Linked DNA regions of Homo sapiens. The protein of the gene in region 1 interacts with the protein of each later gene in a biochemical or structural test. Each region holds a gene or a part of one and is shown on either strand. Other genes may lie near its edges.

Evidence for each region.
Region 2: the proteins of CITED4 (region 1) and TFAP2B form a complex in vitro, tested with the Homo sapiens proteins (one study listed by BioGRID).
Region 3: the proteins of CITED4 (region 1) and TFAP2A form a complex in vitro, tested with the Homo sapiens proteins (one study listed by BioGRID).
Region 4: the proteins of CITED4 (region 1) and TFAP2C form a complex in vitro, tested with the Homo sapiens proteins (one study listed by BioGRID).

What each region holds. Positions count from the first base shown.
Region 1 is NC_000001.11:40,860,538-40,866,271, forward strand, and holds CITED4 (cbp/p300-interacting transactivator 4), read right to left. Parts: upstream 1,827-5,734; 5' UTR 1,591-1,826; coding exon 1,036-1,590; 3' UTR 517-1,035; downstream 1-516. UniProt on the Homo sapiens protein: Acts as a transcriptional coactivator for TFAP2/AP-2. Enhances estrogen-dependent transactivation mediated by estrogen receptors. May function as an inhibitor of transactivation by HIF1A by disrupting HIF1A interaction with CREBBP.
Region 2 is NC_000006.12:50,814,470-50,821,893, reverse strand, and holds the start of TFAP2B (transcription factor AP-2-beta), read right to left. Parts: upstream 3,003-7,424; coding exon 2,922-3,002; exon of another isoform or gene 2,868-2,921; intron 463-2,867; coding exon of another isoform or gene 417-462; intron 1-416.
Region 3 is NC_000006.12:10,398,048-10,405,075, forward strand, and holds part of TFAP2A (transcription factor AP-2-alpha), read right to left. Parts: exon of another isoform or gene 6,693-7,028; coding exon 6,461-6,692; exon of another isoform or gene 6,455-6,460; intron 4,564-6,454; coding exon 4,445-4,563; intron 2,543-4,444; coding exon 2,401-2,542; intron 659-2,400; coding exon 370-658; 3' UTR 1-369.
Region 4 is NC_000020.11:56,632,295-56,639,322, reverse strand, and holds the end of TFAP2C (transcription factor AP-2 gamma), read right to left. Parts: intron 5,971-7,028; coding exon 5,754-5,970; intron 5,174-5,753; coding exon 5,055-5,173; intron 2,714-5,054; coding exon 2,569-2,713; intron 1,596-2,568; coding exon 1,310-1,595; 3' UTR 40-1,309; downstream 1-39. UniProt on the Homo sapiens protein: Sequence-specific DNA-binding transcription factor that interacts with cellular enhancer elements to regulate transcription of selected genes, and which plays a key role in early embryonic development.

The DNA.
Region 1 (5,734 bases):
ACCAGGTTGACACAGGGCCTGGAATAAAATCAGCACCAATTTGTAGAATAATAATTGCCGTCACTTACTGAGAACTGCCCAGGTATTTGGCACTGTGCTAAAGGCAGCGTAACTACCTGAGGAGACGGGGACCATCTCCCTCTGGGAAACCGCCTCAAAAATCAGAACGGATGGTGTCTTGGGCAAAGGAGAGAGTCAGGGTCCAAAGCTAGGCTGTCTGAACTCGGTGCCACCCAGCTCCTCTCTGGCAGAGCACCAAGCTCCCCCCACCCTACCCTAGGAGCTGGGAAGCCCAGTGGGTTACCCCACCACCCAGTGGCAGCCTCTGCCCTCCAGGTTGTGACATAACAATTGCACAACCCACGAGATATTTTTGAAAGAAACTGTCGGTTTCCTCTCCTGGGCACTGCTGGGGACTGTGGCCCCCATGCCATCCAGTGTCTTCAGCAACCTTGGGACTTTGGAAGCTAAATATAGTCAGGGCTCGGGGTGATAAGGAAATGAAAACGGCAAGACTGTAAAGTGACCCAGTTTTATTTTGGTTTTGGAGGCCAGACAGGGCATTGCTCCACGGGTTCGGGCTGTACAACCTTCCCCTCCTTGAGGTGGGAGGCCCAGCAACCACAGGGCCCAGGCAGCGGGGTGGGAGGCTCAGGAGATGGTGGCTCTGGGGACCCGATCCCGAGGAGAGAGGGGGCAGCAGGCAGAGGCCTGCAATGGCTCAGATTGGGGGAAGAGGGCGGCGAGGGGGAGAGGACACGATCCAAGAACCAGAGTCCGAAAGCTGAAGCTGGTCCGGTCTCTTTCACTTTACGGCCGAGGCTGGGGTCAGAGAAGTGAAGCCAAACTGTCCTCCCGCAGGAGGCAAGGCCTGGAGGGACGCCAGGGTCCCAGTCCGGTGCCGGGCCCTGCGCACACAGCCGCCGCCTCCACCCTCGCGGAGGGCGCGCGCGGGGCCCAGTCGCTGGGTGCAGGGTCCGGCGGGCAGTCGGGCCCTTTCTCCTCTCCGGCACGCCGGGCGGGCGCCGGCCGCCCTCAGCAGCTCACGGAGCCGGCGGGCGGCGCGGACCCCAAGTCCGAGAAGCAGTCGAACTCGCTCTGGCCCAGGAAGAGCTCGGGCAGCTCGCGCACGCGGTGCAGCCCGAGCTCCAGCTCCAGCGACGTCAGCGCCTCCTCGTCGATGAGTTCGGCGTCCATGCCGCCCAGGGCGTGCGCGGGCGGCGGCGGGGCTGCGGCGCTTGGCGCCGGCTGCGGGCCCGGGGGGCCTCCCGGAGCGTTGGGGGGCGCGGCCGCGCGGCCGGGGTACGGCGTCGCCACAGGCTGCAGGTGCGCGATGCCCGCGGCCGGCGGAGGCACGGCCGGAAAGGGCTGGAAGGAGGACGGCGGCCCGAAGGCCCCGTACGCCAGGGCCCCGGGTTGGCGGGGCGGCGGCGGCCCCAGCGGAGCCCCCCGCGGCCTCAGCCCACTGTCCAGGCCCGGGCCCGCGTACGGCGGCAGAGTCCGGAGCGCATGAGGGCCATGGGCGGCCGCGGCGGACGGCGGCCTCTGCACCAGGCGGTAGCCCTCGGCGAGCATCAGGTGGTCGGCCATGGCGGCAGGCCGGCTGCCTGCGGGGACAGCGCGCGGTGGTCAGCGCCGGCTCCCCCGGCCCGGGCCAGCGGCTGCTCTGCGGCGGGAGACCCGGGCACCGTGCGGTCCCTGCAGCTCGGCCGGGCGGAGCAAAACCAAACCCGACTGGTGCCCCGGCCCAGCCCACTACTGCGCACCTTGCGGCCGCAGCCTGGGGTCACAAAGGCCCGCAACCTGTAGTGCTCCGAAACCTCCGCGTCGCGTAGCTGGGCTCGGCGTATTCTTATACCCAGAGGCGGGGCTTCCCCGCCCTCGGACGCTCATTGGCTGGGCGAGACGCTTCTGGGCGGGCCGCGCACGCCTGCATCTAGGTCTTGGCCCCGCCCCTCCCACTGGAACCCCGCCCCTTGGGACTCCGGCCACGCCCCAGGCTCTGAGCACCGCCCTGGGGCGGGGTATTTGGCACTTTCGGAGGGATTCGGTCTGGCCCTCAGGGCTTCGGAATCGGACTTGGCTGGGGTAGAGCTTGAACTGACCAGAAGGTGGGGTGGGAGGGCCAGAGTTTTAGGCCCCCCAAGAGCTGCAGGATGTCAGGCCTACGCAACCTTTTAACTTTCCAGGTAGAGACCGAGGCTCAGTGGCGGAAGAGGCTTCCTGGAAATACACAGCAAAGCCTTGATCAAAGTGAGACTGCACAGCTACACAGGGCGCATGCACCTTAGCGGTGCAGGGTCCCCGCAGGAGGTCAGCTGTCCATTCCCATAACCCCCAGGAGAGCCTGTTGCTCCCCCTCTAGTTCCCACTGCACCTTGTCTGTTGAAGCATGTACTTAGTTGTTATTAATTTATGGGCACGTCTCCTGAAGGACTTGTTCATCTTCTTCTTCTCAGCACTTGGCCCAGAGCCTGGCCCAGAGCAGGCTTTTAGTAAAAGCTGAGTGAATGAACTAATGATGGAATGAATTGCAACTCTCAGCTGAGCCTCAGTTTCTTCATCTGTAAAAGGTAAAGAACAGCAGCACTGACCCTTTGTGAGGGGTAAGTGAGGGCATGTGTGCACAGTGCCTAGCACAGTGCCTGGTATGTGGTAGATGCTCAAAAGTGTCCCTTAGATGAAAGAAAGGCTATTTAAGTTCTTTTTTTTTTTTTTTTTGAGACGGAGTCTCGCTCTTTCGCCCAGGCTGGACTGCAGTGGCGCTGTCTTGGCTCACTGCAAGCTCCGCCTCCCGGGTTCACGCCATTCTCCTGCCTCAGTCTCCCGAGTAGCTGGGACTACAGGCGCCCGCTACCACGCCCGGCTAATTTTTTTTGTATTTTTAGTAGAGACGGGGTTTCACCGTGTTAGCCAGGATGGTCTCGATCTGCTGACCTCGTGATCCGCCCGCCTCGGCCTCCCAAAGTGCTGGAATTACAGGCGTGAGCCACCGCGCCCGGCCAAGGCTATTTAAGTTCTGTCCCAAAGGGCCTTCTCTTGATAACAGCAATAATAACTTGGACTTTTAAAGTGCTTTACATTCTACAAGTATTTTGTTGGGGGCAGGGCATGGATTATCAGCCCCATTTCAGTGATAAGGAGAAGCACACAAAGAGAAAGTGGCTGTCCTGAGGTCACAGGCAGCCAGAGTTAGCGTGTGAATGCCATGTGTTTTCCAAGTCCTTAGGGCAACTGGAGTCTTTCCTGTGGCCAGGAGACAGCCTCCCAGAACCTTACCCTCCACGCATTTGACACTCTCTCTCCCTTCTCTGACCTTCCCCCGACCTGTGGCATCCTTGGGACTTCCTGGAACTTGGGTTTATCCAGTTGATGTAGAGGGGAGAGCCCTAGAGTGAGAATTCAGGGGCCCAAGGTCTTTTCTTCCCTCTTTCTTCTTATTTTTTTAAATAGAGAAGGGAGCGGGGGGGAGGGGCGGCGTGGGGGAGTGAGGAGGGCCTCAGGCTTATCTCGAATCCCTGGCCTCAAGTGACCCTCTCACCTCAGGCTTCCAAAGTGCTAGGATTACAGGCATGAGCCACTGCGCCCAGCCAGAGGCCCAAGTTCTAATCATATCTCTGCCACCCACAGGTGTGTGACCTCCACCACCAACCAGCTGTGACTGTTGAGTGTTGAGCGGGGAGTATTACTTGATTCCCCAGGGCCTCAGCTTTCTGCTCTGTGAAAGGGAGACGGTGATCTTGCCTGGTCAGCCTGAGAGCTTGTGGGTAGTGATAAATGACCATGGGTGTGGTCACATTTTTGCAAAGTGTAAAAAGCTACACCCTGGAATTTATTCTCCTGAATCTTTCTCTACAGGTAAGGCTTCTCACAGAAATTCTTAAACCTGGCCATGCCTCACACTTATCTGGAGATGTGGGGGGTAAGGGGTGGGTGAGTGGGGGCTTTGATAAAGACGGAAAATCTGCCCAATTTGGGAGATGAAAGTGAGAGGATTGCTTGAGCCCAGGAGCTCAAGACCAGCCTGGGAAACATAGTGAGACCGTGTCTCTACAAAAAGTTAAATAATTAGTTGGGCATAGTGGCATGTATCTGTAGTCTGAGCTACCCAGGAGGCTCAGGTGGGAGGATTAGCTGAGCCCTGGAGGTGGAGGCTGCAGTGAGCCATGATGGCACCACTGCACTCCAGCCTGGGCGACAGAGATCTTGTCTCAAAAAAATCAACAAGCAGGCCAGGTGAGTGGCTCACGCTTGTAATCCCAGCACTTTGGGAGGCCGAGGTAAGTAGATCCCTTGAGCTCAGGAGTTTGAGACCCCTGTTTCTGAAAAAATAAAAAATTAACTTGGCATGGTGGTGTGCACTTGTAGTCCTTGCTACTTGGGAGGTTGAGGTGGGAGGATCACTTGAACCTGGGAAGTTGAGGCTACAGTGAGCTATGATCACACCACTGCACTCCAGCCCGGGTGATGTAGGGAGACCCTCTCTCAAAAAACAAAAAAAAACAAACAAAACAAACAAAAAATTATTCTGCCATCATTGGTCTTAGGTCACCAGCATTTGGGAGCCATTGCACCACCAGATGATTTTCCATTTAAAAAAAAATGTGTGTGTAACTAATGTTTAAGAAGTTCTTTAGGCCGGGCATGGTGGCTCACACCTGTAATCCCAGCACTTTGGGAGGCCAAGGTAGGCAGATCACCTGATATAGGAGTTTGAGACCAGCCTGGCCAACATGGTGAAACCCTGTCTCGACTAAAAATACAAAAATTAGCTGGGTGTGGTAGCACACGCCTGTAATCTCAGCTACTCAAGAGGCTGAGGCAGGAGAATTGCTTGAACCCAGGAGGCGGAGGTTGCAGTGAGCCTAGATAGCGCCACTGCACTCCAGCCCCAGCGACAGAGTGAGACTCCATCTCAAAAAAAAAAAAAAAAAAAGAGAAAAGACAAAAAAAAAAAAGGAAAAATAGAGTAGGAAGGAGGTTGGGGTGCAGGGGAGGAGGGGAGCAAGTTGTAGTATTAAGTGGGGTATCTGGGGCAAAAGCGGGCTGGGCGTGGTGGCTTACGCCTGTAATCCCAGCACTTTGGGAGGCTGAGGTGGGTAGGTCACTTGAGGTCAGGAATTTGATATCAGCCTGGCCAACATGGTGAAACCCCGTCTCTACAAAAAGTACAAAAATTAGCTGGGTGTGGTGGCACGCACCTGTAGTCCCAGCTACTCAGGAGGCTGAGGCAGGAGAATCGCCAGAACCCAGGAGGCAGAGGTTGCAGTGAGCCGAGATGGTGCCACTGCACTCCAGCCTGGGCAACAAAGCAAGACTCTATCTTTAAAAGAAGAAAAAAAAAAAAAGCCGTATCAGCAGAGAGAACGCTGGAGCAGCACTTCTAAAACTGTAGCAACAAGTCCTGAAGTGTCAGCCTTACCAGGGACCCCATTAGAAATGCACATTCTAGGACCGTACACCAGACTCAAATCAGTTTCTGAATCAGAAACTGGGCTGGAATTCAGCATCTGTGTTTTAATAAGCCCTGCGGGTGATTCTGATTAAGGACCTCTGAGTTAGGGGGAAGCCTTAGGCAAGGGTGAGCCGCAGCCCTAAGGGAGTGTGGACAGAGTGCAGTGGGGCTAGGAGGGTAGCAGGGAGGCCAACTGCATTGAGGCCTTGCAAGGACTTTGGCAGAGGAGTGACATGATCTGGCCTTTGTTCTGAAAGTGTTGCTATGGTCAGACCTCAT
Region 2 (7,424 bases), on another chromosome or scaffold:
CTGCCGTTCTTCGGGGCTCCAGATGCAGTCCTCTTTCACCCGAAGCTGGGCTCAGACTGCTCGGCCGCCCCTTCCTCCCTCCGCTTGCCTACACCGCCTCATAATAATTGATATTCATGACTATTAATATTACACGAGTACTTTAAAGGGAGAATAGAGGACAAATGGAGCGTGAAGCAGCAGCGAGCGCAGAGCTCCCCTACTATTGTAAATGACGTTCATTCAGTGGAGAATTACTAGATGTAATCAGACGAGGGGGCTGGCAAAGGCAGACTGGGGAAAAAGTTTAGCAGGAAAGAGGCAGAACTTCAATTAACTGTGCCGGGGACACGAGTAAAGCAGCCCCTGCTCCTTTGGATAAGGCAGTGAGGGAGAACAGTGCTGGGAGGTTGTATAGAATGGAGGTGTCCTCCTACCTGGAGAGAGACTTCCCTAATCCGGAGGACTTGGTCGCCTTGGGTGCTTTGTGTGAGGATTACAAAAACAAAATAAAAAGGGTTGCTTCATCATTTGGAGGCGAGAGAAAGGCAAATTGGTGGGCCTGGTTATTTACAGTGACTTTTGCAGACTTTTGCTAAATGTGGAAGATTATGCTCATTTGTTAAAGGACAGAAGCGAGATGGAGGCTTTTCATTCCTGTGCAGCCTTTTCCTGTTTAGTGCTCACATAGTTTGCGATTTTTACCTCAATTTAAAACATACGCCATCAATCTTCAAATACACTAAACTTATCCTTTCCAGGCAAAGCCAGGGGCAACAGAAAACCTTTTTGGATGTTTCAGGAACCCGTTCAACTGGCCTGACTGCCATTTCTGTTAAAGTTCAACCTTAGTCCAGACTTAAATAGGCTCCTTCCACCGAGCTGCGGATTCTGTTTTTTGAGCAGAAAATTTAGGCAGATAGGACCACCTGTAATATTCCCTCTCTCTCCCTGTTTATTTCTCTTTCTCTCTCTCCCTCCCCTCTTTTCTCTTCTCTCTTCCCTCCCTTCCACTCCACCCCTCCCTCTTCCTCTCTCCCTCCCTCCTTTCTTCTCTCCCTCCTTCCTTTTCCATTTAGCTACTTTACTTTCTGTAAAGAACGAATGTTACCCTGGTTACTTTTTAGAACCCACTGAAATGCCTCTGCATGCATATAGCTTGAGCTGTTTTCACCATGGCCCCGTGCTTGCTAATGTCATGCCCACTTTGGGCGCTAATATTCTTTAGGACAGTTCTAGCGCCTTGGACTTTACCATTATCCCGCCTGTTAAGGAAAGAAAAGGAGGCCGAACCGAAACAATCCCCACCAGGCGCGTAGGCGCGGCTCTTCGTTACAGTCGATACACAACCACAAAGAGAAAAGGAAAACCCCAAGCATCATTCAGCAACAAGACCAATCTCTCTCCTCTCTGCTCTCTCGCGCTCTCTCCTGCTTTTCTCCCTCTCCTCTCTTATCTCCTCCTCCTCTCTCCTACATACCTCCACACATACACACACCCCAACATTAGGATTCGGGGGGGGGCAGGAGGTGTGGGCGCCAGGCGCTGCCTGTGGGCGCTCGTCCGAGCCCGAGTCCCCCAGGAGCTTGCCGGCCGCGCCTGTGAGTCGCCCACTCTTAGGATCTTCGAGGCGGCTCTGCGCCGGGCTTTCAGGAGCTGTCCCGATCCGGAGGGGTCGCGTGTCTTTCTCGGCTCTTTGGGGAGCCTCTGCATCCCTCCACCTTTCGTCTGACCTAGCGGCCCGCGCCCGCCACCCGGGAGTCTGCTTCTCTTCCTTCCTTTTCTCTCCAACTTTTCCTCTTAGCAATCTCCATGGCCCGCTTCGCCCGCCTCGACTTCCCTCCTTTTCTAAATCCGCTTCGCCTTTCCGAAGTTTTTATTTCCAACCTCGACGTCTCAGCAGAACCTTCCCTTCCTCCCTTCCCCTGGCAACCACCTGGGGCTGTCCCAGACCATTCCGCTTAAAAGCGAGGCTCCGCGGGCTTCCCGGTCCCCAGCCTGGCCCGCCGCGCGCCCCGCGCCTCGCCCGCCTCGGCCGCCTCTCCCACCTCGCCCGCCTCTCCCACCTCGCCCGCCTCGGCCGCCTCGTCCGCCTAGTCCGCCTCGCCCGCGAGTAGCGGAGCCGTCTGGCCGCGTCAGCCCTCGCCCGAGCCGGAAAAGGGCTTTGGCGAGCGCGGTCCGGGCCCCGGAGGCGGCTGGCGTCCTCCTGGCTGGGCGCAACTTCTCCTGCCCCGAAGAGTTGAGCTAGCCTCAGTGCTAGAGACCCGTACGCATTGAACGTGGGCAGAAATTTCCGTGAAAGATGCCCACACAGGAGGCGGCTGCGATTTCTGTTCGGACGCAGTGACCCTCAAGGAAGCAAAACACAAGAAAACAGAAACTAATAAACTGCTACGACTTCTATTTTGCTCTATCCATCCATATCTCCAGCCATCTACTTCTTTCCCGCTAATTCTCTGTCCTCTACTTGGAACCATTTGTTATCAATTTCAGAAATTTTATTGAAAATAAAAATTAAAAGCCCGAGTCTGTTACAAATGAGGCTTGAAAACCCAATTCTCTTCCACACTTAAAACGAGAAAAGCCCCTGACTTTATCAGAATCTCGATTTTCTCTGAGAGCGTGCCCACATTCAGTAGCACCACATTCCCCATCAGAGCTTAAAAGGGTGGGGTGGGGTGGGGGGAGGCGAGGAAAAGGGAAAGAAAAATAAAATAAATAAAAACATTCCTAAATTAAAGTTGTCAGATTTCAGCCTTAAAGTCCCTTTTCAGAGCAGCGAAGTCTTCCCTAGCCAGCTTTTCTAAAAGTTAAAAAAAGCTGAGAAAACCGACCGGAAATCTACGAGTAAATAGCTTAAAAATATATATCATTTGGGGTATCAAGAAGCTCAAATTCTCTATCTGCAAAGCTCTAAGGTGCATCTGGGGGTGTCGACTCACCTCATAGATATCTTCGTACTTGACATTCTCCACAAGCTTCCAGAGCATGATGGCAGCCTGGTCTCTAGGAGGTGAGTGCATTCATGTGAGGAGCAGATGTCTGGCTTCTCAGGACTCCGCTGTCTGTAATGATCCATCTATAATTGGAAATGGGGGATACACACCAAATCCGACGCTCCTCTCCCATCGCAACTTATATCTGTTGTCTCAAACAATAGGCTGGACAAGTAAGCCTCAGCAAAGAGAAAAAACATTATTGCACACACAGGAGTTAGATGCAACCCACAGACATATATACTATAAAAATCATAAACCCGTATTTACACCCAGACACCCACATATAGTTATATAAGCACCTCTGGGTCACACAGTCTGCAGACTCCAAATGTGCATTTAACAAAGAGTTGTTCAGGGTGATTAATATAATATATACATTTTATAACTTCTATATCGAAAATGACACATCATTGTAGCCACTAACTGAAGTCTTTGCAATTCATAATGAGAAACCAGGGGCCATCAGTCCCCTATTTTCTATGTAGATTTTAAAGGGGGACACTTACCAAGATTTTTAAACACAAAAGCTCCCTCCTATTCATGTATGTTCCGGAAGAGAGTATTTTGAAAGGCTGGATATGGGGGATTTTAAGGACTATCTCTGTGTTGATGGCTACACAACTTTTTTTTTTTTAACTTTATCTCTGTCACCATAGAACAAAAAAGCTAGCCACCGTTGATGACCATTTCTAATATTTTCTGGTCATTTTACCTAAAACCTTTGGAAACTTAAATACACCTCAGTTTGTGCTGCTTGTTATTTTAGGTGTTGTTTGTATGCATTTTCAACGGATTCCATGCACCATTCCTCTTGGCTGGAGTCTCCATTTTATCAAGTTTTTTTCAGATGTTGGAAGCAACGTACGCACACGTTCAGACAAGGTTAATTTTGAGCCTTTTTTGCAGAGGCCAAGGACATTTTATATTTGCATCTGTTGTGTATGACTTGTAAGTGGTTTTAATCATGGAGAGTCAAGAAAGGGCCACCCGAATCTTTGAAAAGGTTTAAGCAGAATGTCTTCAAAGAGATAGTGAAAAATATTTTAGTGCATGTGGAGTTTCTTCTTTTTTTTGTATAATTTTTCTTAATAAGATGATTCATATAGTTTTTAAAAAGGAAAACATCATCAGCAACAAGAACAATATTAACCAGACTTAGAAAATGGGCACCATTTAAGGCGCAGGGATTCTGAATTTTATCATGAAATGAATACTCATCTGTTCCCCTGTTCCCCCTTTCCCATCCCCTCTGTTTTTCTACTCCCTTTCAGGGTGCGGAGAGCTTCTCATAGCCGGAACAGACGCCCAGAAGAGGATCTCTGCGCCTGGGACAGAAAAGAAATGCCAGGAGGGACCGAGGAGGGATGGGGCAATTTGGGGTGGAAGTTATTAAGCCTGGTGAGAGTGAATCTGCAAAGGGTGATTGTCTTTAAATCCAGGACTGCTGTGTGCAGCTCTGCGCGAACAGGGATGGACGCTGTTTGAGTACAGGGCTCCGGACAACCTTGTTGGACGTCGATTCAATCAAAACCAAGGAGAAGCTTCATGAACTGCAGAATAAACAATTCTGCAGATTTTTAATTTAATTTTTAAAGATAAGTCAAAGGAAAAGAACACAAAGAAGGTGCTTCAGAAGGAACTTCAGAAATAAACCCCTTATTTCCGGTTGAATTTTTTATGTTTCGTCTTTCCTTTTCTCCTCTTCCTCCTTTTTGTTTTCCTTTTTTCTTTCCTTCATTTCCCTTTTCGTTCCTTCCTTTCTCTCTCCATTCCTTTCTTCCCCTTTAAATGTTAACCTTAAATCATACACAATCTATACAGATTTTTCACTAGGAGCATCAGCAAAGATTTTCTTCTTTGCTTCCAGAGCTAGTTAGGAGATGAGAAGGGATTTTTCTTAATCTTATTGTGTGGTGGGACTTGAAACGGGTTCCACACCCCCTGACTTCTAGAACTAAAATCAGTGCCAGATCAATAATCTGAAAGATAAATATTATAGACTTGGAAGTTCAGATTCTCCAGGCACAAGACATTTAATTAATGGAAATAATTGTTTTCTCCCTTTCAAATCAATAATTCTGTCATTGTTATTACCTAAAGATCATTACAACCCAAATAAAATGCATTTGGAAAAATCTCACTTTTTTTCTCTAAATGCTTTTAACACCTTTTAATATCTTTTTGGTATATTATTGCCTAGTCTAAAATAAATAAACTCTGAGATTTAACAAAACAAAACCTGCAAGAGATAATTTTACACATAAATTAAAATAATATAAGGTATTGTGTTAGTATAACTATTTTATAGCCTTATATATGAATAATTTCAAACTTTTTATGTGTAATTTTATTTTATGCTAGTATTAGGTATTTTTTAAAGTGGAAATATCTTGAGATATTTGGTTAAAATTTAAGTTCTTTAGGAAACCTGAAAAATAACAAATCTGGTTTTATTAAGAATGAAGCATAAACCTAAAAATATACACATATATATAGAGAAATACCTTCAAAATACATAACCATAATTAAAATCCTAGTTATTTTTTTTAACGTGGGCGTTATTCGAAAAGTCCTAGACATTGCAAGGTAAACCGTTCCCACGGACCGTTCCCTGTCATTGAACGGGCAACAGCGCCCTCTGTCGGAATTTTATAGACGCAAACCCTGCAAGTCTCCTTGATTTCTTTTTCGGCAAAGGTTTCTTTCCGTTCTTGAAAACCTGGTATTGAGAGGAACATTTTTAAAGTTCACTTCTTATGATATTTACTAATTTTAGAAACGATCGTTCCAGCATCTAAAAAGTTCAAACGCCCGAAGAAACGCACAATAAAAGCTCAGCCGCTACGGAGAAAATTTTTCCTAACTTGAACCTACCTCTCTTGCTTTTACTTTCTATTACCTTTCGCGTTATCACTCAATCACATGACGTAGGGAAACTATTCCCGCAAGAACTCAGTAAATGGAAACACAAAGGCAAAACAAACTCTGGATTTGAAGGAAATTAAACGAGTAAAATATGCATTTTCCTCGTTATTTTATCTTGCCTTATGTCCATATTTCTTTTTCAGGTTACGCACATGCTCTCCTAGGTGGAACCGCACTTGAGACATCCCAGATAGTTAACACTCGTACTTTCCTCTTTCATTTGCATTTATTTCAGTTTAAAACAGCAAAGAAAAGAATTATTCATACCCTCTTTTTTTTTCAGCCTCATATAGAGGGAATATTATTCAGTAAATGTCGGAGTCTATAATTAAAAGCAAATGCACCCAGCATGAAGCCCTCTGCTGGTGATTTTCGAAGTATGTTCAGGACTGTTTTTTAAAAAATGTACAGAAAAATATCATTATTAAATCAAGGTCAACTAGGAGCACTTTCATGTCTTCTTTCATCTTTCTTCTAAAAATCTAATTATGAATTATCTAAATTTATTTGACTTCCTTCCTTCCACTAGCCCTCACCTTTGCACCTGTGGGTTAACACTCCATGAACTATCTTCCTTTGCAGATGCCCACTGTACCACCTTTTCTTTTTCCATTACACAGTCTCCCTGGGTTTCCCCTTTCCATCTACCCAACGCACAAAAATAATAAAATTAGAAAAGTCAAGAATTAGAATTATTGTGCCAAGTTTGCACCCTGGCCTTTCTCATTCTAGGCGGTGGGGCAGGCTATTTAATAGCCTGAGGTTCAGTGCACTGAACTACAAAATGGAAATGATTGTGAAAATTTATTAAAATAGTATCTGTGGGTAAATATATGTGGTACTATTGCTTCATAAACAATTTAACTTATCATCATTGTCTCAAAACACTTAGCGGGGGGTCAGGAAAGTGGAGGCTTCTAAAAACCAGGGATTTGCAATAAACTCCTGGTTAGAAAGTGGAGGTGGGAAACCCAATATAGGTCTTCAGACTGTGTACTCAACGCTTTGCCCACAGTCTCATGATGCTGTCTTACTTCTTTCCTTCTGAAGTTAAGAAGACAGTATTTTTGGATCATTGAGTATGTCCAGGGTTATTTTTTATAGTCCTGGATTTATAAGTAGGCAAAGGAAAGAAGAGAGGAAGGAAAAACTGTCTTACTTCAGCATCCTCAGATATTGCCCCACCTCTTACCCATCAGAAGCATTATTGTCTGCTGAGTTGAATAATAAGACACGACATCCATATAACAGATCTTGATAAGTTAAAAAATGATAAAACATGACAGCTCCATTTTTTACTGTTGCAGTCTGGCTCCTAATTTTCCTACCATGTTTCTGTCTTAAGCTTTCTCATGATTATATTTTTGGGGAAGATTCAGTAGGTGTTTTTATCATCAATTTGGAAACAAAATACTGTTGAATGTCTGAAACTACAATTTAAGCACCTGCCTTCAGATTTCTAGGGCTTTGATACCATATAGGTTTCAGTGACTTGGTATGAGGAAACAAAATAGGAGGGAC
Region 3 (7,028 bases), on another chromosome or scaffold:
TGTTGTTGTTGCTGTTGTTGATTTGTTGTTTTGTTTAAAAAAAAAAGGGTTCACAAACTTGGCAGAACTTTTCTCTGCTGGCTTCACGGCCTGTTCTGTTCTCTTAGGCTCCACATGAGGGCACAGGGGTGTGGGAGCGGGTGGGGAGGTCGAGGCGGGTGCAGAGTCGGAGAGGCTGCCCCACTGACAGTCGAGAGGGCAGTCCCGGAGACTCGGGGGGACCCAAGGGCAGCGGCGGCGGCGGCGGCGGCAGCAGCAGCAGCAGTAGCAGCAGCAGGAAGGGTTGCTGATCCCGGAGCTGTCACCCGCCGGAGGGTGGGCGCGCGGGGGGCTGGTGAGGCGTGGGAGGGGCGGGGCGGGAGGAGAGCCTCACTTTCTGTGCTTCTCCTCTTTGTCACTGCTTTTGGCGTTGTTGTCCGTGTGGCTGTTGGGGTTGTTGCTGAGGTACATTTTGTCCATGGCCTTGAGGGCCTCGGTGAGATAGTTCTGCAGGGCCGTGACCGCGGCACACACCGCGGGGCTGCCGAAGCCGTGGGAGATGAGGTTGAAGTGGGTCAAGCAGCTCTGGATGCCGGGCTCCAGGATGGGGTTGGGCCGTGAGTTCCCCAGGGGAGATCGGTCCTGAGCCAGCAGGTCGGTGAACTCTTTGCATATCTGTCTGCAGCACAAGTGGAGCAGAGAGAGAGACATAAGGCTCCACTATGGGCAGCACTAGCAGCAAAGAGAAAACCTCCCTCCCTGCAGCTACCTCTGCCGGGATCCAGCCGGTACCTGACATGACCCAAGACCCCAGAGACAGACAGTGTGGCCACATGTTGGGAGATCCAGCCACCTTTCAGTGACCACTAAACCATCTCTCTTTACTTCCTACCTTCACAAATGACTCTCTCTCTCTTTCCTCTCAGATATGGTAAACTTTTATTCCCACCTTTCTCCCTCACACAAAACATCCTAGACATAGGAAACCATTTCACACATTGGAAGAGAAAGAAAGGAGTCACGCAGACCGGAAGTCAGAAACAGTAGCATCTTGCGAACATTATGCTGCAGCCATCAGCCTTCCTATTCAAAATGTCATAAAGACCCTCTTCCCTGCTCCTCTAGAGAGACCTCAGCAGCAGTTTGTAGAATGAAGTCCACACTCGTTCACCTTCAAATCAAATTCAGGTCAATGTGGACAGAGAGACAAAACTTTACTTGGGATTATTTTGCCTTTAAAAAACAAGAATAACAAAAAAACAAAACGGGCCCACACAAGCCCTGTTACTTGGAGATAATTCAAAGTAGTGTTTGGGAAGAAGAAACAGACATTTCGATTTCCCATTCCTCCTCTTTCCCCACATAGCTCAAAATAAAAATACTGCAGGGAAATTGTGGAGATGGGTGTGCTTACGAAGCCTGGGGAAAGAGAAAGTTGAAATTTCGCAGAGGTAGATGAGGCCTGCACTCAGGAAGCTCTGTCTCTGAATCTGGGAAGCAAGGGCTAGCTGGGGCCTTCCAGGGGCAGCAGCAGCCTGGCCTGGGGGGCTGGGGAGGGGGATGAATGAGGAGCCTGGGCTGGCTCCCTTCTCCAAGGCCAGCTGATGTCCCCAGGCCAGAAACAGGGTCCCACCCAAGGCCTCAGCTTCTGCCCTCTGCTTCCATGCCCTCCTGTGACATCAACTTTGATAATTAAGGGCTTCCAAACAAGCCTTTTAATTTCCAGAAAACACATCAAAACAGTCATTTTCTTTTCACACATCACCTGGAGAAGCCTATTCAGCCCAGGCACCGATGGGAATATAACTTGGGCCATTTTGAAATCTATTTGACTTCTCGCCTGTGGGCTAAAACTTATGTGGGGTGTGGGTCTCTCTCTCTCTCTCTCTCTCTCTGTCTGTGTGTGTGTGTGTGTGTGTCACTTTCGAGAAGGGGTTGTGAAAGGAAGGTAAGAAATGGAATAACAGATTAGGGTTGAAACTAGGACAGCTTCTGGCTTGCACATTTTGCAGGCCACTGTTTAATCTTTGCCCTTGGAGAACATATTGATAGGATACAAAAACTGATATAGGTAAGCCTGTTACCCCTTTGAGGATTTGATTCTGGTCTTTCTGAAACAACATAGTCACAAATCCACCCTTAACTTCAGTCAAACCCCTCCTACAACCCACTCCCATACACACTCATTAAAAAAAAAAAAAAATGAGTAAATGGGACAGATGAGAGGAAAAAGATGGGAGCGCCCAAGAATCCCACCTGTATTTCTTCCTTAACATAGACTATATATAAGATGGTGTTATAACTGCAACAAAGCTGATTAACACAAAAGGAAAACAAGGGAGAAGGAAGAGCAAAAACGATTTTTGTTTCTCTTTCTCTTGACAACGAGACACAGAGACCCCATAGAGGTAAATGCCTTACTTTGTAGCCAGGAGCATGTTTTTTCTTGTCACTTGCTCATTGGGATCGGAATGTTGTCGGTTGAGAAATTCAGCTACTGCTTTGGCAGGAAATTCGGTTTCGCACACGTACCCAAAGTCCCTGGCTAGGTGGACAGCTTCTCCTGGCAAGAGGGGAGAGGAGGGAGCCAGTGCGAGAGAATGAAGAGTGGGGATCCTAACTTCCTCCCCACTCCCAACTCCCTAATTCCCTTCACCCCAGATGTTGCAGGAAACACAAACTACTTGTTTTCTCATTTCAGGCATTTTATTTCCTTCTCTGTAGGATCTGGTGGATGCATTTATCAGGAAAAATGACCACTTCTCCTAGAGGGCCAAGAAGACTTGAAAATGAAAATCTCATCCACCAACCTCCAGTCCCATCCCCCACCCTAAATGACACTTCTCCAAATTCTCTTTTAAAATGCTTCTTGTATTCCAACTTCACACCTATCAACACATTCATAAATGATATTCATAATTACTCTTTGAGCTTTTCTGCAAGGGAACAACTGAGGGGTTACATTTTAACTTGATCACATAAATTATCTGTTCATCCAAACCGATTAACCAAGAGGATTTGAGGGTCACTCCACTGAGTCTGTCTGTGTTGTTGATTTTCGAATCTTTGGTTTTAATTTCCTGAACCAGTTGGTTTTTACTGCAGGGCTTCCTGCCATTAGCTCCAGCTCCGGAAGAACGCATGCGCCAATTAGAGCATCAAAGCCCTCTCCGCAGAGCTTGTTTCCATAAAATGGAGCGGATCACAAACAATAACAGTTCTCCAGAAACTGCCTCCCTGCTACAGAACTCAACCCCCAAACCCAGACGAACTCCACGCTATACCTTAAGCCACCACTACCATTTTCTTGGCTTATAATTCTTTTGGAGTATGAATAGTGGGTTCTCTATGGACTGTTATGATTTTTAATGTAATGGTACTGTAGTTGAGTTTCTGGCACTGAACAATTGCTGATTTTCTAAACAGTTATATTACTATCAATCTCTGACATCATCAACAAAGAGAATTCATAGGATTCCTCCTCAAATATATGGTTTTAAACATTTTAAAAAATAATTTACAAAGCCAGAACTTAAATTCAATTGTAATATATCTCCTCAAATACAAGATGTGAATGAAATAAAATGACTTCTTTAAATATATATACATGCTAGTTTTAAAATCTGTCTGGTAATTAAAGTAACTTTTTTTTCCCTGTTAGCATGAGATATTTACAATAGGACACAAAGAAAAACACAGGAGAGCTATAGATTCATTCCAGTACACCAAAACCTAGGCCAATCTTGTATCAGAAAAACTTAATCTAGAGGCAGCAGGAATATGAGTGGCTTCCGGTGGCAGTTATCTAGAGCAGGGAGTGAGGATAAGGGTTGGCTTTTTGTTTTGAGGCATTTGGAAGGGTGTATGTATGTTTAAAGCTACCAGGAGAAACTTTTTGCAATGCTTATATTTATCTTTCCATATCCACATCATCCAGAATCAAAAATTGCTCACTTTTCTTCTTCTCCAAGAGAAAAGCACAATTAAAGAGATAAGGGAGCATATGTTTGGAAAACAAAGACCTGAAAGGGCACATAACCCTGAGCTTTCAGGATGGTCTTAAATCAGGACGCAGGTCAAAGATTCCCAAATTAATTCAGGAAGTAATGGTCACGCATTTCTCAAACGCAGATGTCAGAATAACTTAAGTTATTTACTGCTGAGCCCTTTAAAGGAGACAAACTTGGAGAATGTGCAGTTCTTAAACTTGTGCGTTGTTTAGCTCAGAATTAGGCTGGGGAGGTGTAACTTTATGGTAGAGGAAAAGAAGGAAGAAGGATGGAGGTATAGGAGTACATGCAAATGTTTCTTTTTGCCATGAAATAATTCCATTCACATCTGGCTATATTCTCTGCAAAGATGAAACTGCCCAACTGACATAAAATACGACCAAACATCTGGCCACTAAATATTATCCATTTTCCAAGAAGGAAGTTCCTTCTAGTTAGCAAGTGGATTCGCTTACCCTCTACTAGTGATGTGAGCAGGGTAACGTTGGCAGCTTTACGTCTCCCTGCAGGCAGATTTAATCCTATTTTGTCCAGTTTTTCTCTTAAAGATCTTCCTCCATTTTTAGACTTCGCCCTGTTTCACAAATATATGCGAGAAAGGGATTTAGAAAACATTGGGTTGCTCTGCACCACATTAAAATCATTTTGAAAGCTTCCTAAAATGTGCTTTCAAAAACTGAGAAGCTTGGCCCCAAGACATTTAAAGGAGGGAAACCTAGGAATAGTACAGAAGTTCATAGGAGATAAACGCCTGTTAAACTGTAAAGCACCCCCTACGTTCAGTTATTATTGCAACTCTTGTGGCAGGTTGGAAGGTTTTGATTTCCCAACTCTCTAAAGAAGAACCACAAACAAACACAGCCCCATCTCTAGGGTTTGAGGTATTGAGTTCAACTGATTCCTGTATATTTTCTCTGCTGTTACAATCACACCAATCCCAATGGGGTCTTTAAAACTGTCTTTGCAAGATATGCTGTTAGGTTGTTCCGAGTAACCAAAGTTATCATCACTCTCACGTTTCTTGCTCTGGCTCTAGCCCCAAAGGGAAATTCGTTTCGCCAACTGTTTACGTGCCATGTCACCAGCCTAACTGGAAATGTCAAAAGCTGATATCAGCCCTAAAAGTTTCACTGATTTCAGAGACAATGGAGGCAGTTCTAAACAGATGTCTAAATAGAATCCCATAATCAGAAAGTGGTTAAGATAAATTGTTTAAATAAAACAGCAAATTAATTAATTTCAGATTTTATTCCCTACTCAAGTGCTCTTTAATTGTGTGGATTAGATTATACTCCCCTAGGTAAACAGTCTCCAATATTGGGGATGGGGGAAGGGAAGGAAAAAGCAGAGGGCAAGGAAAAGATCTGTGTCAGTGAAAGACTACAAAGGGAAAGCAAAATGACTGTGCAGGAGGAAGAAAAGACTAGAATGGTTGATGTTAAACCCTTCCAAAAAATGATCTTTATAGGCTTTGTGCGGGATATAGCCACTAGAAAGGAACTGTGGGTCTATCAACACATAAGTAAATGAATAACAGTCAAAACAATGAAGTTCTCAGTATTATTAAAGAAGAGAAGAAACATTATCCGGGTAAGTTCAACACAAGCCCCACAACTCACAACGTGCAGTGGAATCCTAGGGGTAGGAAGCCCACAGCAGGGAGAAAACTGCCCTAAGGGAAGGTGCTTTACCTTGCTGACCCTTATAAAATCTTATCTACTAAATGAATCACTCAAACCTCGCAGGGGTGAGGTAAGAATCCCTGGCTATGTATGTAACAGATGCATTCCTTGGTAGTGACTACACACAATGCACGTAAACATGCTCGCACGCAGCCTGGCACACATCAGGGCCTCAGTAAATTGGGAATCATCATCATATGCAAACGCCTATAGTATGGGGGTCTGGAGATGACAGCGACCGGAAAGCATGGCGTGCGGACTCAAGAGGACAACCATTCTCTTCCTTTAGTTAAAAGCCATTCTATTAAAACCCTATACAAGGCACGACCGGTTACCCTCGGAGACCCTACTCAGAGAGGTAAGGCAAAGCGAGGAGCCTGAGAGGAACTTTTCCTGGGCTTGCAAGGTGTGCGCGAAGAGGGAAAAGGTGGCTGTACGGCGCCCCGCGGCTGCAGTGGCCGGGATTGAGCCCGCGGCGGAGCGAGCTGCGCTTGCGCGAGGAGGAGGGCGGAGCGGAGGACTCCGCGAGCGCGCGGCAGCGAACGAAGCGCGCACCAGAACTCGCTCGCGGGAAAGCAGCGGAGAGCGCAGGCGCGCGCCGCATCGCCCGCTCCCCCGCCCCCAGATCCCGCCCACTTGGCTCTACGCTCTTCTCCCCGCCCCCTTTCCTTTCCCGCGTAGGGAGGGCCGCGGCGCGAGGCCTGTTTGCGTCGCCGCCACCGCCCCGGCGCAAGCGCAGTGGTTCCCCCGGCCGCGGGGCGGGGCGGGCGGGGCCGTGCCGGGCCTCACCTCCGGAGCACTCCGCCCAGCAGCGACGCGTTGAGACACTCGGGTGGTGAGAGCCGCCGCTGCACTTCCGCCACCGTGACCTTGTACTTCGAGGTGGAGCTGAGGAGCGAGAGGCGACCCGGAACTGAACAGAAGACTTCGTTGGGGTTCACCACGCCGCCGAAGAGGTTGTCCTTGTTAATAGGGATGGCGGAGACGGCATTGCTGTTGGACTTGGACAGGGACACGGGGCCTGCGGAGACAGAGGGGAGGCCGCGTGTTGGGCGTCGTGGATCACCCCCAAATCCTGCCCGACCCCGGCCCTCATCCCGGCCAGGGCCGGATCCCAGGCTTTGGGCCACAGTCCCCGCTTTTCCGTCCGGCTCTGAAATTCTGTGGCTCTGCTACTTCCCTTCCTCGGGCTCGAGCCCTTCCCTACCTCACCCGGCGGCCGGGAGGCGGCCCTGCCCTCCCCCAGCCAGCCTGGCCTGCGTTTCTGCCTTGACCCTTTCCCCTTCGCCGTCAAGGGTGCTCTCTAGAGATGGGTGGTGAAATTGGTGACCCCTGAGGCGCTGAGCATCCGAGCGGA
Region 4 (7,028 bases), on another chromosome or scaffold:
CTTTAAAACAAAAGCAAAAACAAAAACCTATAGCCAGACTTTCAGATTCTAACAAGAATACTTTTATTATACACGTATCATACACACAACAATTATTTGGGGAACATTTACAGGCAGAGAGTTCAATTCCAAATCTCCATTTCACCCACACACACTGTACTGCACACTCACCTTAGGGTTCAGCCCAACAGGAACGAGACAAAGTTATTGCTTTCTGAACAGAGAGTTTCAATTAAATAGAATCTTCCAAGCCAAGAACAGAGCCCAGCATCCTCTTAATTCTTAATACCCTGTATATATATGAATAAAACCTTATGATGTGTTATAGATTACCCCATCACCATTAAAAGTTAATATTAAAATTGGATCCCATGTCTCAAAAAAGTCGTAAGAAGTGCACCAGTATTTACAGACCCCATTAAATTACGCATAAATAAAATCTGTACACTCAACGCACTGTTTCTTAAAATACAGAACCTCCACGGGGACTTGGGGGTGACAAGCAGCAACAAATTGCTTCGTGCCTACCCTTTTCAAGTTTACTCGAAACATCTGAAATAAATATGCAAATAAAGCTTCAGTACCTTAAAGGAACATGTCATTTCAAAGAGTCTCCCATTTGAAGAGTTAACTTTCAAAGTTAAAAAAAAAAAAAAAAAAAAAGGAGAAAAAAATCAATCAGCAGGCTTCGTTTCTACAAGTTTCCTAAAACCAGAAGGCCCCCGTTTGAACACGGGGTTTAGAGTGTGTCAGATACCACTTATTAACTAGTTGCTAAGCAGATAGAACCTTTGCCTCCTACCAGAGGACTTGATCTCTGAAGAAGCTAGATACACACTTTTCTTTTTTTCAAGGTAAATATTTAGCGGACACAAAAACCAACCATTACCTTAACACTGAAAAAAAAGGTATTGTTGATCTGTTGATCTAGGGCACATCAATTTGACATTTCAATGGCTAAGTGTGTGGGTCTGTTGGCCCAGGGAATGTATTTAAAAGATTCTAAAACTTATAGCACCACTTTCAGAGAAGGAAAGAATGGGGTTCAAAAAAAAAAAGCTTAATGAATAAAGAGCCAGTACTTGTCACCTTCTGATAATAGGTCCAAAGTTAGGAGATAGCTCAGCGCTAGAGAAACAACTAAGAAGTCCAGGGGCGGGTGATGCAGAACCAGTGAAGGCTCTTTAAATAGTAAGGTAGGTAACAAACTCTTCCCCCAGGCCAGGAGGGGTTCCCAGTCTGTGCGGTGGAGAAGGATTTTTGCAGTCCTGTTCCTTCCCTACTCTCCTAACCTTTCTTCGTTCCAATTTTATTTCCTGTGTTTCTCCATTTTCTCCAGGGTTTTGTTAGAATCAGCTGGACTCTGGTCTCCAGGGTTCATGTAGGATTTGTCTATGACAATCAGGGCTTCTTTGATGTAGTTCTGCAGGGCAGACACCGCGGCACAGATGGCCTGGCTGCCAAACCCGTGGGTAATCAGGCTGAAATGAGACAAGCAGTTCTGTATGTTCGTCTCCAAGACTGGGGCGAGCCTGCTGGTCCCATGGGGTGTCCGGTCTTGGCTGAGAAGTTCTGTGAATTCTTTACACAGTTGCCTGTGAAGACAGTCAGTTGACTCGATGAGTTCCATCTAGCTCCTTACAGGTCAAGAGCACAGAACCAACTACACTGAGGCTGGCGCCCGGGAGGCAAGCACAACTGCTTCAACCCGAGGAAGGAGAATTTAATACTAATAGCCAACTGCTGCGCTTAGCAACTATTCTGCGCCAGGCTCTGAGTTAAGCTGTTTTAAAGCACTATCTTATTTAATCCTCACTGCAATTAGAAAAGACAACAGGATTAACTTAACCCCAGCTAACTGGCCAAGGTCACCAGGACTGGTAAAAGTAATGGGGCCTGGATTCCAACCCATGAGCTTAAGGGACAGTTTACCTTGGTACAAGTTGGTTCCAATAAACAAATTCCGTGAGGAACCGGGAGAAGGAAGCATCCCCCTGAAATTCTGACTCCTGACACAGCCTGGTTCACTGCGCTCTCTTTTACCCCATTTCCTGGCTCGACTAGTTCTGCTTCATTTACCATCATTTTCAAATCAACTTACTGTTGGTTTCTATGAGAAAACCCACAGCTGCATTAAGTCGTTTTGGAGACAGTTAATTTGCCCACAAATCCACCCTGATCTTTACATTTGAAAGACAAAAGTCTTGCTATCAGGAGGTAGAAGGCACACAATCTCTCTTTACTGGTTGTGACAAAACAAATCGGGTTTTCAACACATTTTTGTAAGATATGCTAACACAATAATGAAAGGGCAGCTCAACTACTTTGGGTTGAATAACTAAGCAGCTCAAAAATACTCATGGCTGAGTCATGCACTCTTCTAAATCATACAAAAAGTTAATGTATTTGACTTTGTAAAAGAAGCTCCCTTGCCATTTTCTTTTGCTCCACCCTAATTTATTTCAAGAATATTTCTTTGTTGAGCCATCGGGACTGTGGAGGGGGAATCTTCTCAACCTCAAGGTCTAGAGCATTGAGTCATCATCAAATTCAAGTTCAGATACTTACTGGGCCGCCAATAGCATGTTCTTCCTAGCTGCCATCTCATTTCGTCCTCCAAGATGAGGTCTGGTTAAATATTCTGCCACTGGTTTACTAGGAAATTCGGCTTCACAGACATAGGCAAAGTCCCTAGCCAAATGAACAGCTTCACCTAGAATAATCAGCAACAGCTTTTAGGATGGCTGTGGTCACTGAGGCCAAACTGCCCTTTTCCTCTCTCTTTTTTTTTTTTTTTGACACGGAGTCTCGCTCTGTTGCCCAGGCTGGAGTGCAGTGGCCCGATCTCTGCTCACTGCAACCTCCACCTCCGGAATTCAAGCAATTCTCGTGCCTCAGCCCCTGAATAGCTGGGATTACAGACATGCACCACCATACCCAGCTAATTTTTGTATTTTTAGTAGATACAGGGTTTTGCCACATTGGCCAGCTGGTCTTGAGCTCCTGGTCTCAACCAATGGCTCATGCCAGGGATTATAGACATGAGCCACAGCACCCAGCCCCCATTTTCTCTCTTTCTAGTAGTATTCATTGTCTACCAGTCATACGTTGCATGCAAGAACGAAATCATATACAGGGCAGACAACTCAGCTGGTAGGTAGAACTTTCTAGGGATTCTCAGTAGGTCCTCCACCCCAGGAATAGAGGGTGGAGATCACACAATGTGAGCAGAAAAGACCCTGAAACTTCTAACTGCACAATCAAGTCAGCCCTCTGTATCCGTGGGTTCAGAATCTGTATTCATCCAAACTCAGATTGAAAAGATTCGGGGGGGAAATAATGAATGGTTGTGTCTGTACTGAACACACACAGACTTTTGCCATTATTCCCTGAGCAATACAATGTAACAACTATTTACATAGCATTTACATAGTATTAGGTATTATAAGTAAGTGATGCAGAGATGATTTAAACTATACGGAAGGATGTGTGTAGGTTATATACAAATATAACATTTTGAACATCCTCAGGTTTTGGTATGGGACCTGGAACCAGTGCCCCATGGATACTGAGATGAGTAAACTTGAAAAATGTTTACCAGTCCTCTGCTCAACAGATAATCAAACATACCCATGTTTTCTCTTTATATTAAGTAGTATCATTTTGGGGAAGTAGGAAAATTTAAGGGCTATAAACATGTTTGACAAAAGCAAACTAGTCACTTCTCTATAAAATGGTGACATCTGACAGCTTACTTTTTTTTTAATAGTGCCTTTTTACTGAAGGGGCAGATCTCTAGAATGTTTCTTTTAAAAAAGATGGGAGGGATGTTTCTCCTAAAAACCAACTTGGAGCACCCTTTTCCCTGTCCAAGTCAGTGGAAGAGCTAAGGGAGGCAACCAAGAGAGTTTCTCCCACCCAAGAGGTACCTTCCCTGGCTCCAGGGTGCAGGACTGGTGAGCTTTGCAAAAACCCAGATGGTGGAGGGGCCCCCTGGGTTGACTGAAGCAGCCTTGGAGAGCCATTGTTCTGGAGCACACTTTCTTATTCAATCACCCTGCCTGGCTAGCAAGAAACCCCAGCAGAACCGCCGATTCTACAGGCAGGACAGCTGTTCTCAGACAGGCAGCTCCTTTCTCCTTGCCCTGACCTCCAAAGGCACTCGTAAAAGGTAAAGCAGGGACTCTGCCAAGTCTCTTTGAGCACCACGTCACGCCATCAGAGCAAGGAAAGAAAGTCTTCAAAAGAGGGTACTGCCACGGGGAGCCCGTTTCTCCTTGGCTTCCCCTGCCCATAGTGAGAGCCCTAAGCCTCTCTCAGCGTCCAACTCTTCCCGGGAGCAGTAACAACATGCTTTGTTTTGTTTTTAAAAAATTATTTTACTTTCCCTTCAGCTCCTTTTAAAGGTTGTGTTGCATTCTTGGCTACTGTCCAGGTTGGGGTAAAGGGGCCCCCCATTCAAGAAACTGAAATGCTATGTCCTACTATCTTAGCACTGGCAAGAGGAACTTGTGCGTGGGCCAGGGGTTCGATTAGTTTTTTTCTTTGGATGGGAGGGAAGAATAGAATTGTGAATCGGGCCAGTCGTATTGTATACAAGAGGTTCTCTTCACTGACCACAATCCCCAGCTACAAAATAACCCACAGCTACAAAAAACAGAAGCAGTACTTCTGCTCACCAGTAAGTAACCAGCTTTTACTCAAGGTGTACCAAATGATCAGCTGTTATCTTCCAAAAAAACTGGTTCATTTAACAGGAAATGCCGACACCCCTAGAGTGTGATTTCTTAGGTTAGGAAAACCAGTTTCTTTCCAACATTGATTCTCTGGGGGAATACAGAAGAGCCTACCTGAGCAACCAGATACTTAAATGTTAACTTATTCGATAAAATTAACTGTGATTCATTCCAATAAACTTAGAGAACAATTCCAATTGCTTTCATCTCTACTTGCAACCAAGTTTTAAGAGTTGTTTTCCAGTTTTTCTGCAATAAGTATTAAAGACACAGGCACAAATTAAAAACATCACGAACCAAAAACAAAACCCCACTGACCTTCTACTAAGGATGTCAGGAGAGTCACATGAGCGGCTTTCCGCCTCCCGGCCGGAAGATTCAACCCAATCTTGTCCAACTTCTCCCGCAAGGACCGGCCTCCATTTTTCGATTTGGCTCTAAGAAAAAGAAAAATTGACTCTGGCTACTCTCAAAAACAAAAACACATACACACGCACACTTTAAAAATTCTAAACTCCTAAAGTGCTGCTGTCAAAGCTGAAACCCATCAAAGACTATCTACATCACGTGAACCATAATGAAAAGTGATAGCAGGGTCCTCTTTCAATTAGTCCCCGTAAGATACAAAATCAATCTTTCCTAGCATCCAACTCTGCATCACCGAATATTTCAAATTGTATGGGAGCAGACAAATTTTCACTTGTGAAACTACAACGGCCCCACAAAAACTCCCTGGGGAACAAACCCAGGGTGCTCCCCCCACCTCCCCTCAATACAGATGCTATCACTTCATACATGGGATCAAATTCTAACCAAGTGAGAATTTGTGAGCGTCGTTTTAGCACTTCCTCCCACATTTGGCACTTTCTAAAGGAGAAGAAATGTACTAAAACTCTAACCCGATTAGAATTCAGTGTTAGGCATAAAGTCACATAAATGTTAAAAATACCTCCTGGGCCTCTGATACACTCACCTTCAACTACCCAACCACTATGCCTAGAATTGTGCCCCAAGTACCTTCTGAGAACACCTCCCAGTAACGAGGCATTTAAGCATTCAGGTGGGGACAGTCGCCTCTGTACTTCAGCCACTGTCACTTTGTATTTAGACGTAGAGCTGAGGAGCGACAATCTTCCAGGGACTGAGCAGAAGACCTCAGTGGGGTTCATTACGGCCCCCACCAGCTCCTTCTGACAGGGGAGGTTCAGAGGGTTCTTGGTCATGGAAATGGGACCTGTGAATGAAGGTCAGAGCTGGCAGTCACAAGAGCTCTCTCTGAGCAAAAGAGACCTTTTCAAAACCAATAACCAAAGCTGAAAGTGATCTTTAGACAAGCATCATTGCACACCCCACGATCAACTGCAGGCTGACTTTATTTAAAAAAAAAAAATAATAAGAGTCTCACTCTGTGGCCCAGGCTGGAGTGCAGTGGTGTGATCTCTGCTCACTGCAGCCTCAGCTTGCGGGCTCAAGTAATTCTCCAGCAGGTGCCCACCACTACATCCAGCTAATTTTTTGTATTTTTAGTAGAGATGGAGTTTCACCATGTTAGCCAGGCTGGTCTCAAACTCCTGACCTCAAGTGATCTGCCCACCTTGGCCTCCCAAAGTGCTGGGATTAGAGGTGTCAGCCACTGCACCTGGCCATGGCTGACTTTTTAAAAAAGCCCCCTACTTCAGAGACAAATCTAATCTGAAATTCACAAGTTAACACCTTGGGAAGTTAATTAGTGAAGATCCAAAGCTTGGAGGGTTTCTTTTTTTTTTTTTCCTAGCAGCTGCTGAAAACTATTTAATTAGAACATTTGTTTTCAGAAGACTGCTTCAATACTAAATAAACGGTGAGTTTTTTCCCCTCAAGAACAACCAAAATCATAGGACACATTAAGATTCTTTCCAAAATTTTTCAGTGCAGTTGATCACAGTAAATTTAATCATCCAAACTAATACGTTCTAAGTTTACTGAAAATTTGTAGTCTTTTCTGAGTTTTTCTTTAAAATCCATTTTTCCTCCATCCTCAATCCATTTAAGCAGTTCAAGTAACAGGCCAAAACTACCTTCAATTTAGGCCTACTCTATTTCCCAAAACAGTCAAAATGGTAATCCTGGTAATCCTGTCAGTTAAGTAACTTAATTTCATAAACCACTCACTCACCAAGTAATCCAATTTTCCAAATCCCCTCCTCCCCATCCTGCAAAACTCTCCCTCTGACAGATCATTCCAAGCTCTGTTCCTTTTACAGGTATTCATTTGGTAGGCCAAATTGCTTCAAAACTTTTCTTGCAGGTCAG